Linked DNA regions of Homo sapiens: region 1 is linked to region 2. The links come from fine-mapping of genetic effects on plasma protein levels. A gene starts in region 2. The other region holds a variant in brackets. All regions are shown on one strand. Distances are from middle to middle.

Region 1 (2,304 bases), 260 kb before region 2:
CACCCTGAAGCCTGGGCCTGAGCCCAACAAGGACAGCAGCCACCCCTGTTGCACAAAACTGGTTGGGGAAGGCTCTGTAGGTCCCACCCTGAGCCAAGGTGCCCTGCTGCAGGATGGAGAGGCGGGATAGTGTGGGGCAGGAGGACCAACTCCTGGGCCTGGGGTCTGTGGCCAGGCAGGATGTGGTCCAAGGAGGGCCAGAAGGGCAGGGAAGCGGGGCAGGCGTGGCTGTGGGAGTGCTGGGCACCTGCCCTCCTCCTCCTGCAGCTGTCGGAGGATCCACAACGAAGGCTCTGTTTACTGGTGGCCATGGTCCCAGTGGGAGGGTGTGTTACCGCCAGGCAGGGACAGCAGGCAGACAGTATTGGCTGCCTTAAAGGACCAGACGCCCAGCCTTTGTGGGAGGCCTCACCTGCCCTGGAAGGACAGGTGCATGGGGTGCTTCCTCCCTCTCTCCACAAGGGCCTCACTGATCCCCCCCCAAAGGACAGGGGAGCTCCCCGGCCCCTCAGGCTCCCCAGGGAGCTAGCCAGGCTTGTCCCCTACAGGGGTGCCAGACGGTTCTATGAGGCTGATGTCAGGTCCACAGGGGCGTCCTAGAATCACAGGGCTGTGAGAACCAAAGCTCTAGCTGCTGGGGGTCCCATTCTCACTGGAGCCCACCCCTGAGGCACCCCTGGCTCCCAGAGCAGGTGGTCACCTCCCTCGGTAGGTGAAACCAAGGCCCAGGAGGCCTAAGAGTTTGAGGGGTGGCTGGGGCAGAGGACCCAGGGAAGACTGGGGGCCAAGGGCACAGAGGGTCTGGGGGTCATGAGCAGGGGCAAAGGGAAACTGAGGGCAGAAAAGAACAGAGCCACAGAGGAGAAGTGGCCGTGGGGCCCCCTCAGGCCTCATCTTCCTGAGTGGCTGCACCTCTATCCCCTAGTGGGGTCTGACCAGGCAATCCTGGGAGGCTCTGGGAAGAGAGCTGCCCCCCAACAGGGCTGCAGTTCTGGAAGGGAGAACGTGACTGGCCACAGCAGCAGACTCAAATGAGCAAACTAGACCTGTCCCTGATGGGACCGTCCCCTCACCCACCCGTCTCTGTGTGCCTGAATGAATGCTCCAGTTCTGGGGTAACCCAAGGCTTTCTTCCCTTGGCGGGAGTGGGGGTTGGGTTAGGGCTGTGGGCAGCTCTGGGCTAGAGGTGGCAGGAGCCCCCCCTCAACTTCCTAGGTGTCCAGTTACCCATTGGCTGGCAGACAAGCCTTCCTGTGTGGAAACCCGACCACACAGCAGAGGGAGGGCCCCCTGGCCCCCAAGTCCTCCCCATGGGTGCTGTCCGCCCTCCTGGGCCCACCCCACGGACAGGCCTTCCCGGGACAGGGTCTCATTCTCCGTGGCAGTGGGAGGCCTCAGTGTGCCCCAGCCTGGCGGGTGAGACTGGCTTCCTGGTGGGTTCTGGGAGCTGAGCACCTGCCGTGGCCCAGCCCTGCAGAGAAGTGTCCCCGAGGGGCCCAGCCCAGGACCGGCTGAGAGACACAGAGGGCAGACAGACAGGTGGTGCCTCTGGGACCACCTGGCCCTCCAAGCCGTCAGGGTCCCTTCTCACACCCCACGCACCTGATGGGACTCCAGTCCCCACCCCAACCATGACATCCGCCGGGGCAGAGGAGCTCCGGGATCCCCCACACCCTGCACCACCGGCCCTGCTCCCTGCTGGCTGGGCTCTCCCCTGCGCCCCCAGGAGGGGCCCCAGCTCCCACTGTGGGAAGTCCCCGCCCCCCCAGGCCCGCCATTCCTTGGGAGCTTCTGTCCCCAGCGGCTGCCGTGAGAAACACACCTTGGGGTGGGCGGGCTCCTGTGCCTGAGCCCCAGGCCCCGGAGTGTCCACCAGGAGGCAGCATCGGGCTGCTTCCCCCACCTGCGCAGGCGGCCCCTGTCTAGGGGAGTGAGGACCGCCACCCCAGATAACAGCCTGGTTTATTTGCACAGAAGGGGAAGCAGGTGACCGGAGGTCAGCTGCCGCGGGGACCCCCCCTCCAGGGCCCTCC[AGAGCCCTCCC/C]AGCCGGGGAGGGTGGGGCGGTCTGCTCAGCAACTGCCCGTCACAACTGCTGGGAGGCCAAGATCTCAGGGTTCTCGTAGCAGTAGGCCTCTTTGGTGGTGGCCTTCGGGGGGCTGCAGACGTTGCAGGGGCAGCAGCGGGTCACCAGGCGGTCCCAGGGCTCCAGAGAATGGAGCCAGACGGGGAGCCAGGCCCAGGAGCGCAGGCGGACAGGCAGCCAGGCCGGCCGGCGCCGCTGCAGGACAGTAACCAGGATGACGA
Region 2 (8,152 bases):
CTGTGGGGCAGGGGCACACGACTGTGTGGGGTGGGTGGGAGACAGTGAGGGACACCCCCTCCTAGCTGTCCTGACTCAAGACCCCACTGGGAGCAAACACTAGAGGGCCTGTTCCTTTGTTGACGTCAGGCTGAGATTTTAGAGGGGGAGGTCCGGGTGGCCAGGGCCAGGCCCAGGACGGGTGATGACAGCGCAGACAGCCAGGAGCCAGCTCTACTGACTTGCTTCCGGAGTTTATTGTGCAGGATGAAGCCTGAGTGGGCAGGGTTGCTTTGGCGGGGAGCCGGGGCAGGGGCTCGGGGAAGGAACAGAGCAGAGACATCCAGAGCGTGGGGGTCACCTGGCTGGCCGGGATCCCAGCTTCAGCCCTGGGGAGTCCTGAGGGGTGTGACCGAAAGGCTAGGATGGAGGACTGCAGTCTACCCCAGCCCACCTCCACTCCAGTCGATGGAGCAGGTGCGGGCTACGGGGACTTTTCTCTGCCCCCAGCCCCACTGAGCCCCGCTGAGAGAGCAAGATCCATCCCTGGGGCTTGGATCCCCGCTGCCCCAGGGTCTACAGACTCCACCCTTCCCAGCCCCAGGGTCCACAGACTCCAGCTCCAGCCTAGGCCTCCCTCCTGGGGGTGGTGGGTGAATCCGCCCTGAGCCTGCTCTCCGAGCTGTCCCACGGCATCCATGTAGCGTCCTTGGCCCTCCCCTTCCATCCCCTGTTCCCTCCCATCCTGTCTCCCCCACCCTGGTTTCCTCCTAGCCCAGGAGCCAGACACCCTTGCTGCCAGGTGGTCCCTGTGGTATAGCCCCTTGGCCTTGTCTGCCTGGGGCCTCGCACCTGCACCCCCCAACCATGAGCCTTCAGGAGTCAGCCCTGTTCCAGCCACTGGGACAGGTTTTCCTTCTGAGCCTCACACCTGTGCACCCATCAATGTGGGCAGCCCCAGTGTCTCCCGCCCGGCCCTGGACTGCAGCCATCGGGAAGGATGGGTCTGCAGCACCAGGCTGTCCTGGGGCCCTGATCCATCCCATCGCAGAGTGGGTTGGGTGGATGTGTGTTGAATGAATGAATGAATGAATGAATGAATGAATGAATGGAGTGGCTCACCTATTGTTCCGTCATGCACTTATCTGCCAAGAAAGAAGCCAGGGGCTGTCGTCAGAACCCCAGACTTAGGCCAATTTTCCCACTGGGCTTCCTGTTCCTCCCGTAACGCAGAGCTCGTCTTGACTGAGCCCCCAAACTGCACAGATCCCCCATCACCTCCCACCTCTCCCTGGGCACTGGAAACAAAGAGAGGGTCTTTCTCCACCTCTGCCAAGAGCAGGCTGTCCACCCCTAGGAGGCTGTGCCTGAGCCCAGTATGGTTGGTTCCCCTGTATCCCCCATGGGCACCCTCTACCCTATGCCCCCCACCAGGCTGAAGCCCCACATCCTGGGAGCTGCTGGGGCCTGGCACAGAGTGGGCGCCTGGTCTCCATGTCCCCCATGGAGGGGGCTCCTCATGAAGGGGCTGCGGGAGGGAGGTTCTGACTTGAACACTCACCCCCTCTGTCCCTGGCCCAGGCCTCGAGCAGGGCGGGGCCACCTCCTCCCCTCTGCCTCCCCCAGTCAGGAGACTGCCTGCCTGCCTCTAATCTGACCTTGATCCTCTCCCCATCAGATTAGGACCCCTCACCGGTTTGGGGCAGGAAGACAATGGTATCCTCTGTGAAGCCCTGGGCCTTGCAGAAGGCGGTGAATTTCTCCTTTAACTCAGCCCTGGGGGTCTGGGTTCGGCCTGGGACAGGGTGGAGACGGAGCTGGCCTCAGCGGGGGGGATGCTGTGTGCCCTGCCCTGGGTCTTGGGGAGCCCCCTCTGGTCAGGCCTGCGTGTGGGCGGCGTCCACGGGGCACGTACTGTAGAGGGTGGCCATGCGGAAGTCCTCGCCAGGGCCCTTGCTGCCCTGGCTGTACAGCAGCGCGTACTGGTCGTAGTCGGTCTCCACCACTGACACGGAGTAGGTGCTGCCCCAGTCTGGGAACCCAAGAGACAACCCTGTCGGGGACTCAGCCCCCCAAACCTCACCTCTGCTTCAGGGAAGGGGTGCACCTGTGGGCTTTGGGGGCACTCAGCCCCTCGGCTGGCCCGGGATGCTCCCCCACCCGGCTGCTCTCCAGCCAGTGCCCTGCTCTCGCCTGCACAGCCTGTGAACCCTGTCCCCAAACCAGAATCTGGGGGAGCCAGGCTCAGAAAACCAGGATTCCTGGTGCAGCCGCAGAAGTCGCTGCCAGAACCGGAAGTGAAGAGGTTTCCCCGTGGGAGCCATTCCCCAGGTGGGAGTGAGGAAACCCCTGGGTCCTGGGGAGGAGAATTGGGAGGAGGCATATGGAGGGGCCTTGGGGGGCTGCTTATGTGGGGAAAACTCCAGAGGGCAGGGAAGGGGCCTGACAAGACAATGGTGGGCTCCAGAGAGGATCCAACCCCCTGGAGGAAGGGTCTCTCTGTCCCTAACACTTGTGCATGGGTAGTCACGCCCAGGCCTGGCCTTTGCCTCTGACGCTGGTGGGGCAGCCATCACCTCCCACCCCATGGATCTCCGCGGCAGGGGGCTGGCCCAGAGTCGTCCCGGCAAGTGTCGCCCCCAGGCTGGGCCCAGGGGGCCGGTGGAGGCCCCACTCACGGGGACTCCGGTAGCTGTAGGAGCCGAGGGACCCCGCGGGCTGCAGCAGCATGGTTCGGGTCTCACACTGGTTTTTCCTGTAGGTGGGTGACCTCAGGGTCAGGGGTTAGGCCCGAGGGTGTCCCTGGACCTCTCCGTCCCAGAAACCCACCTGCCCGCTGTCCCACCTGAGGAAGGTGGAGGTCAGGTTGAGGCCACCATCCGTGGCAGGGGCCACCACAGACTTGCACATGGACAACGCCGCCTTCTTCTCCCGGAGCCAGCTCGAGTTGGAGGCGAGGCCCGCGCTGAACCAGCGCCCCAGGAACTGCGGCGAGCGACCCCCACCCGCGTCGGCCAGGACCCTCCGGACCCACCTGCGCCTACCTGCGGGGGCGCCTCTGCCGTCTACTCCTCCGGTCTCCAACCCGGCCCCGCCCCCACGCCCAATCCCCCGAGCAGCCACGCCCCTCACGCCCCGCCCCAGGAACTGACCCCCGCCCCTCAATCCCCGCCCCAGGAGATGACCCCGCCCCTCACATCTCCGCCCCAGGAGCTGACCACGCCCCTCACATCCCCGCCCCAGGAGATGACCCCGCCCCTCACATCCCCGCCCCAGGAGCTGACCACGCCCCTCACGACCCCGCCCCAAGAGCTGGCCCCGCCCTTCATGTCCACAACCAGGGAACTGACCGCGCCCCTCACGCCCCATGCCCCCCTAGGAGCTGACCCCGCCCCTCACGTCCCCGCCCCAGGAGCTGACCACGCCCATCAGGCCCCCGCCCCGCCCCGGGAGGTGGCCCCGCCCCTCACGCCCCGCCCCAGGAGATGACCACGCCCCACTTCCCCCTCCCCCGGAGATGGCCCCGCCCCTCACGCCTCAGCCCCAGAAGCTGGCCACGCCCCTGACACCCAGCACCCCCGTCTGGCCACGCCCCTCCCGAGGACAGTCCCTCACCCTCGCACGCCGCCCACCAGCCAGCTTCGGCCCCTCCGCCCCCGGTCCCGATTCTGTGCCCTGGCTGAGCGCCTGGCCCATACAGCGGGCGGCAGAGGACGTCGCATTCCTGGCGGGGATCGGGGCGGGTCTTCGGCTCAGCTCTGCGGACCGCTGGGGTTCTCCTCGACGCCAGGGAGGGGCGCGCGGCGCGGGGACCCGCGCTCCGGCGCTTCCCCGAGCAGCTCCCGGGCGAGAGCGCGCGTCGCCGGCTGTCTGTGCGGTGCGCGTCCCTCCCAACCCCCACCGCGCACGGAGTGTTTGTCGCCATCCCTGTGCCCCACCCGCCCGTGTCCTGGCACCCAGGTGTGGAACGTGCGCTCGTGTGTCCTCTGGGGGTCGCGTGCCCACAGGGGTGGACGTGTCTGGCTGGCGTGGGCGCGTGTGTGGCCCGGTGTCTGCGTGGCCCATCAGGGGAGACGGGACGCGGTGCCCAGGGAGGGCTTCTCGCGGGCAGCCTCCTCGGGCGGCTACCCAGCCTCCTTCCTGCGCGCCCGCTCAGTCCCTGGCCGGCACTGCCCGGCACTGCGGGACTTCGCTCACTCCTCCCAGGGGGAAGACCCAGCCGGAAAGTGCCCTTCCCCTGACAGGGTCCTGTAGCCCTTGGGGATGACGCAGGAAAGCCCCTCACCTTGTCCTGCTGGAAGTTGGGCTGCACGGAGACCTGGGCCTCCGGTGCTGCCTGCAGGTCGCCCAGCACCCCCAGCAGGGCCAGTCCCATCCACAGTGTGTGATGAGTAGCCATTCTCCTGCAGCAGAGCGGGTGTCCGGGGCCTGGTGCCAGTGGTGTGGGAGAGCGAGGGAGGTGTGCAGGAGGAGCGGAGGGCACTGAGGAGACCCCTATTTATGGGCCAGGCTTGGCCTCCACCCAGGGCCCGGGGACAGCCCACTGAACACTCGTGATGCTGGGGGATGGGGTGGCCAGGCACAGCTGCAGCCTCGTCCCCCACAGGGCGCTTATGCAAGAGGCCTGGGCCTGCTGCCCCAGCTGAGGCAGCGTGGGGGTGAGGCAGAGGCCCCTGCCCACTGGTCCCAGAGACAGAGCTGGCAGGGACCTTGCCCACCCTCCTCCTGCTGGCAGGGCCCACCAACCCAGCGGCCCTGATAGGGCAGGGGCTGTGTTCCTCAGCCATGCCCGCCTCCGAGGCCTCTGGTGACTTCCCACTGGGGGCCAGGACCCACATCTCACAGCCCCTACCATCATTCCCTTTCCGAGCCCTGCCACCCCAGAAGGGGACACAAGCCCCACTTCCACCCTGAGAGTTTGGTCCTGAAACGCCCAGCAAGTGAAGTGTTGATGAGAAGCTCAGGCCAAGGTAGAGAAACTTGATCTGGCCCGCAGGGTCCCGAGGGCCAGGTTTGCTGGGCATGGCTTCCCCCATGGCCAGCTGTTGGGGCTCTGATAGTGACCCCTGGGTGCCCATTTCAGCCTGGGGCACCTTTGGGCTTGAGCACAGGCCCTATCCCTTGCCAGAGGCCCCAACTTCCCCCAGCAATCCCCCCACCCCAAGTCTGCCCCCCGCCGAGTCTGGGCCTCCCCACCCCGAGTCTGGTCCAGACTCGGGAGCACCCCGTGGGGCTGTCCTGTTACCCCAGCGCTGCACCCAGCTCCTTGGGCCCCTCCAGCTCGTTGGCCCTGGCTGGGGCCCTGTCACAGGCCGTCACAGGCAGGCACATGTGGTGGGCCCTCTCTGGATTCTGTTGGGACTGAGCTTCCCTGGCAGGCGTGGTGGGTGAGCGCTGCCGCTGGTCTGAAGGTGAGCCCGGGTGGGGAGCTGGGAAATGTACATGAGAGCAGGAGTGAGTCGGATGGGGTGGGGTGGTGAGCTTCTACGGGGCTGCTGGCGACCACTGGGGGCCGGAGCCCGTCTTCTTCCTGGATTCTGTGGCCCATCCCTTGCTGGGGGCGCACGAGCCCTGGGAGTGGGCTGGTGTGGACTGCTTCCTTGTTCCCCTTCCCCAGTGCCCGGGGGTCAAGGAGCCCAGACTGGGGGAGGCGCATGCCTATGTAGCAGCAGGGGCTAGTGGGCAGCACTGGTGTCAGGGCTGGTGGGGGTGGCCGGGTAGCATCCCAGGCAGAGGCCAAGGTGAGGGAGTGAGTCCCAGGGAGCCGGGAGGCACCTGAGAGGCAGGGAGAAGGAGGGCAGCGGTGCAGGGGGGCCAAGGCAGTCCTGAGAACCCACTCCTCCACCTGGACCTCCTATCAACCCCTGCCTGAAGCAGCAGCGTGCTGCTAGCTCAGATGCCATCTGTGCCATGGGCTGAGAGGGAGAGTCTGTTGGAACAGATAGGGGTGGGGTGCCTAAACCCGGGACCCCGCGTGGCCCGCAAGCCTGGCTCAGCTACAGAGCTGGGGGCTGCCGTCAGGACAGGGGAGGGGCAGGAAGAGAGTTGCGGCTGGGATATCACCACAAGACTGGCCTCCTGCCCGCTGCCAGCTGAGTCCTGGCTGTCATTCCACTCTGGTGGGGCTGGTGGCTCGCTGACTGGCCTGGCTGGAGGTCCCAACCCAGGCTAGGCTGGTCCAGGACAAGAGCGCCTCCCGGTGGTGAGCAAGCTCTGGGGTGTGGTGGCGGGTGGCCCGGGGCAGGGAGACCCAGGACACGTGGCTCTGGGTCTGAATGGCTTCCGTCTGGGCAGGCCTGGGTCACCTGCCAGGGAGGGACTCTGAAGTCTGATGGGGCCGGGTCCTCCCATAGCCAGAGGGGTTCCCAGGGATCTCGGGTGTCCAGCCCTCAAACCCAGTGCCTGGAACAGGGACCAAGCCCCTCCTCTTCCCCATTTTCTAGTGGGCTGCAGAAAGCCCAGCAGGTCCCATGTCCCTTCTCCTCCCTGACCAGTCGTTACCGAGACCATATGGTCGTTGGCGCCTGGAGAGCTGGAAGAGCTAACAGGATCATGCTTCGGTTCAGGACGGACTCCTCAGTCCCTGTGGTCAAGATGGCCAGCAGGTGGTCAGAGACACTCCCCAGACACGGCTGAGTGAGGACCAGTGAGTGGGAGCTGCCCACGAGCCCTGATTCATGGGTGCACCTGGGCCCACCCGAGGGCTGGAGATTCATCTCTCACCACATCCAGGAAGGGCTGGGCAGTTGCCAGCTCCTGGCACGCCAGATTTCTCCCCTCCTCCCCCGGCTAGGACTGTGCAAGGTGGACAGGGGCAGGAGGGACCTTCGCAGAGCCTCTTGCAGCTTGGGCAGGGACAAGGACCACCCTGCACACTCTCTGTGCCCTTCCCTTTGCTCTGAGCTTGGCTGCCAGGCAGGACCTTAGTGGAGCCTGGCGGAGGGCTGGGCAGGAAGAAGGCTGGCCGCCCCACCCTGCTCTCTGGGAACCAGTCTCTTTGAGTCACAAAATGCAAAGACTTGGCCTCCACCCTAAGAGGTCACCAAGGCCATCCCCCTGCCTGCGGCCCAGGCAGGTCATGGACAAGCCTGGTGGCCTGGGCCTAAGCTCCCAGAACTGACCCCAACCTTTTCCTGGAGGGAAGCTGTCTCCACCCTGGGGCCCCGGCCAGCATCCTCCGGGGGCAGTGATGACCCTGTCCAGCATCCCCACCAATGGTTTGCCCTTGAGGGCCGAGGCTGTCCCAGTGACTGGTGGGAGCTGAGCTCGACTGAGTGTCCACCAGCCTCAAATAAACTCATGGGGACCTCGTGAGCCCCACCCACCTGCAGCCTGGGATCAACTCCCCCAGCCTGGGACTGGGGAGGGGCAGCCTCTACACCCCACCTTTCAGAGGTACCCAAGCCTCACGGCCCCAGAGGCTCACTCCTGCCAGAGCTGCCCCGCTGAGGATCTTCCATAGGGAAGGGCAGTGCCCGGGATCACTGAGACGCTGTGGAGTGTTCTGGACAAGTCAGGGGCAGAGCAGGAGCACCCCTGAGATTGTAGCCGGGGAGACCAGGGCCGGGTGCGGTGGGGGCAGCTCAGGGCTCCTCTAGGGGCAAGAAATTCTCCCCAAGGCCTCCCTGCGTCAAGGGAGCTGCTCTGTGATTGAAGGAGGCCTGAGTGGACGGGCCACGTGGGACAGCCCCTCCTCAGGGCATCTCTGAGCTGCTCAAAGCACATGGGACCCACTCTTCACCCAGCCCTCCTCTCTGTGCCTGTCTGTTTGGGTGTTCACTGACATGGGGGACGGCCACCTCTCCGCTCACCCTTTCTGGCTGCCTCTGGCCACCTCTCCCAGCACCACCCTGGAGGTCAGGCCCGCCCAGCAGCCGGGGACGGCGCAGAGGACAGGGCAGCCCGGGACAAGCCAGAGGATAGGGGAGCAGATATGTCCCTGGGACTTGAGGCTCATATGTGCATTGCTGGCCATGGGGTCCAAAGACGGTTATGGCCAAGCCTCAGCCAATTCTGCAGCTTTGGAGCCAGGGCTAGGCTGGCTGTCTGTGGGGGACAGATGGCAATTTGGGGGTGCTGAACGATCTGTCCAATGTGGGGTCCAGCAGGCTGGTCAGAGGCTGCCGCATCCCAAAGGTAGCAGGGCCGGGAGGAGGGGGCGGCCCAACCCCCA

Alleles and levels. Positions count from the first base shown, and alleles are read on the strand shown. Strength reflects both the effect of a copy and how common the allele is.
For the plasma level of the protein whose gene starts at base 4,453 in region 2, C is the low allele of the variant in region 1 and AGAGCCCTCCC is the other (weak association).

The links. PIP is the chance, under the fine-mapping model, that this variant and not a neighbour inherited with it causes the effect. The UK Biobank Pharma Proteomics Project read protein levels with antibody pairs (Olink). The fine-mapping took linkage between variants from a reference panel, not from the people measured, so its PIPs are less certain.
Region 1: its variant is fine-mapped to the plasma level of the PTGDS protein (UK Biobank, PIP above 0.99).

Annotation. Positions count from the first base shown.
Region 1 is chr9:137,236,196-137,238,499 of GRCh38, reverse strand. It overlaps SLC34A3 (solute carrier family 34 member 3), which reads right to left. Exons shown (of 13, transcript NM_001177316.2): 13 at 1,945-2,304. The coding sequence ends at 2,084. Among named protein-coding and RNA genes, the nearest start is that of TUBB4B, 3.9 kb to the left of the region's middle. RefSeq lists silencers at 1,558-1,787, 1,808-2,137. The variant AGAGCCCTCCC/C (reference allele first, on the strand shown) is at 2,034.
Region 2 is chr9:136,973,805-136,981,956 of GRCh38, reverse strand. It overlaps PTGDS (prostaglandin D2 synthase), which reads right to left and starts at 4,453. Exons shown (of 7, transcript NM_000954.6): 1 at 4,265-4,453; 2 at 2,825-2,964; 3 at 2,658-2,734; 4 at 1,895-2,011; 5 at 1,673-1,774; 6 at 1,102-1,124; 7 at 215-378. The coding sequence starts at 4,378. The coding sequence ends at 1,102. It also overlaps LOC124902312. RefSeq lists an enhancer at 2,414-3,393.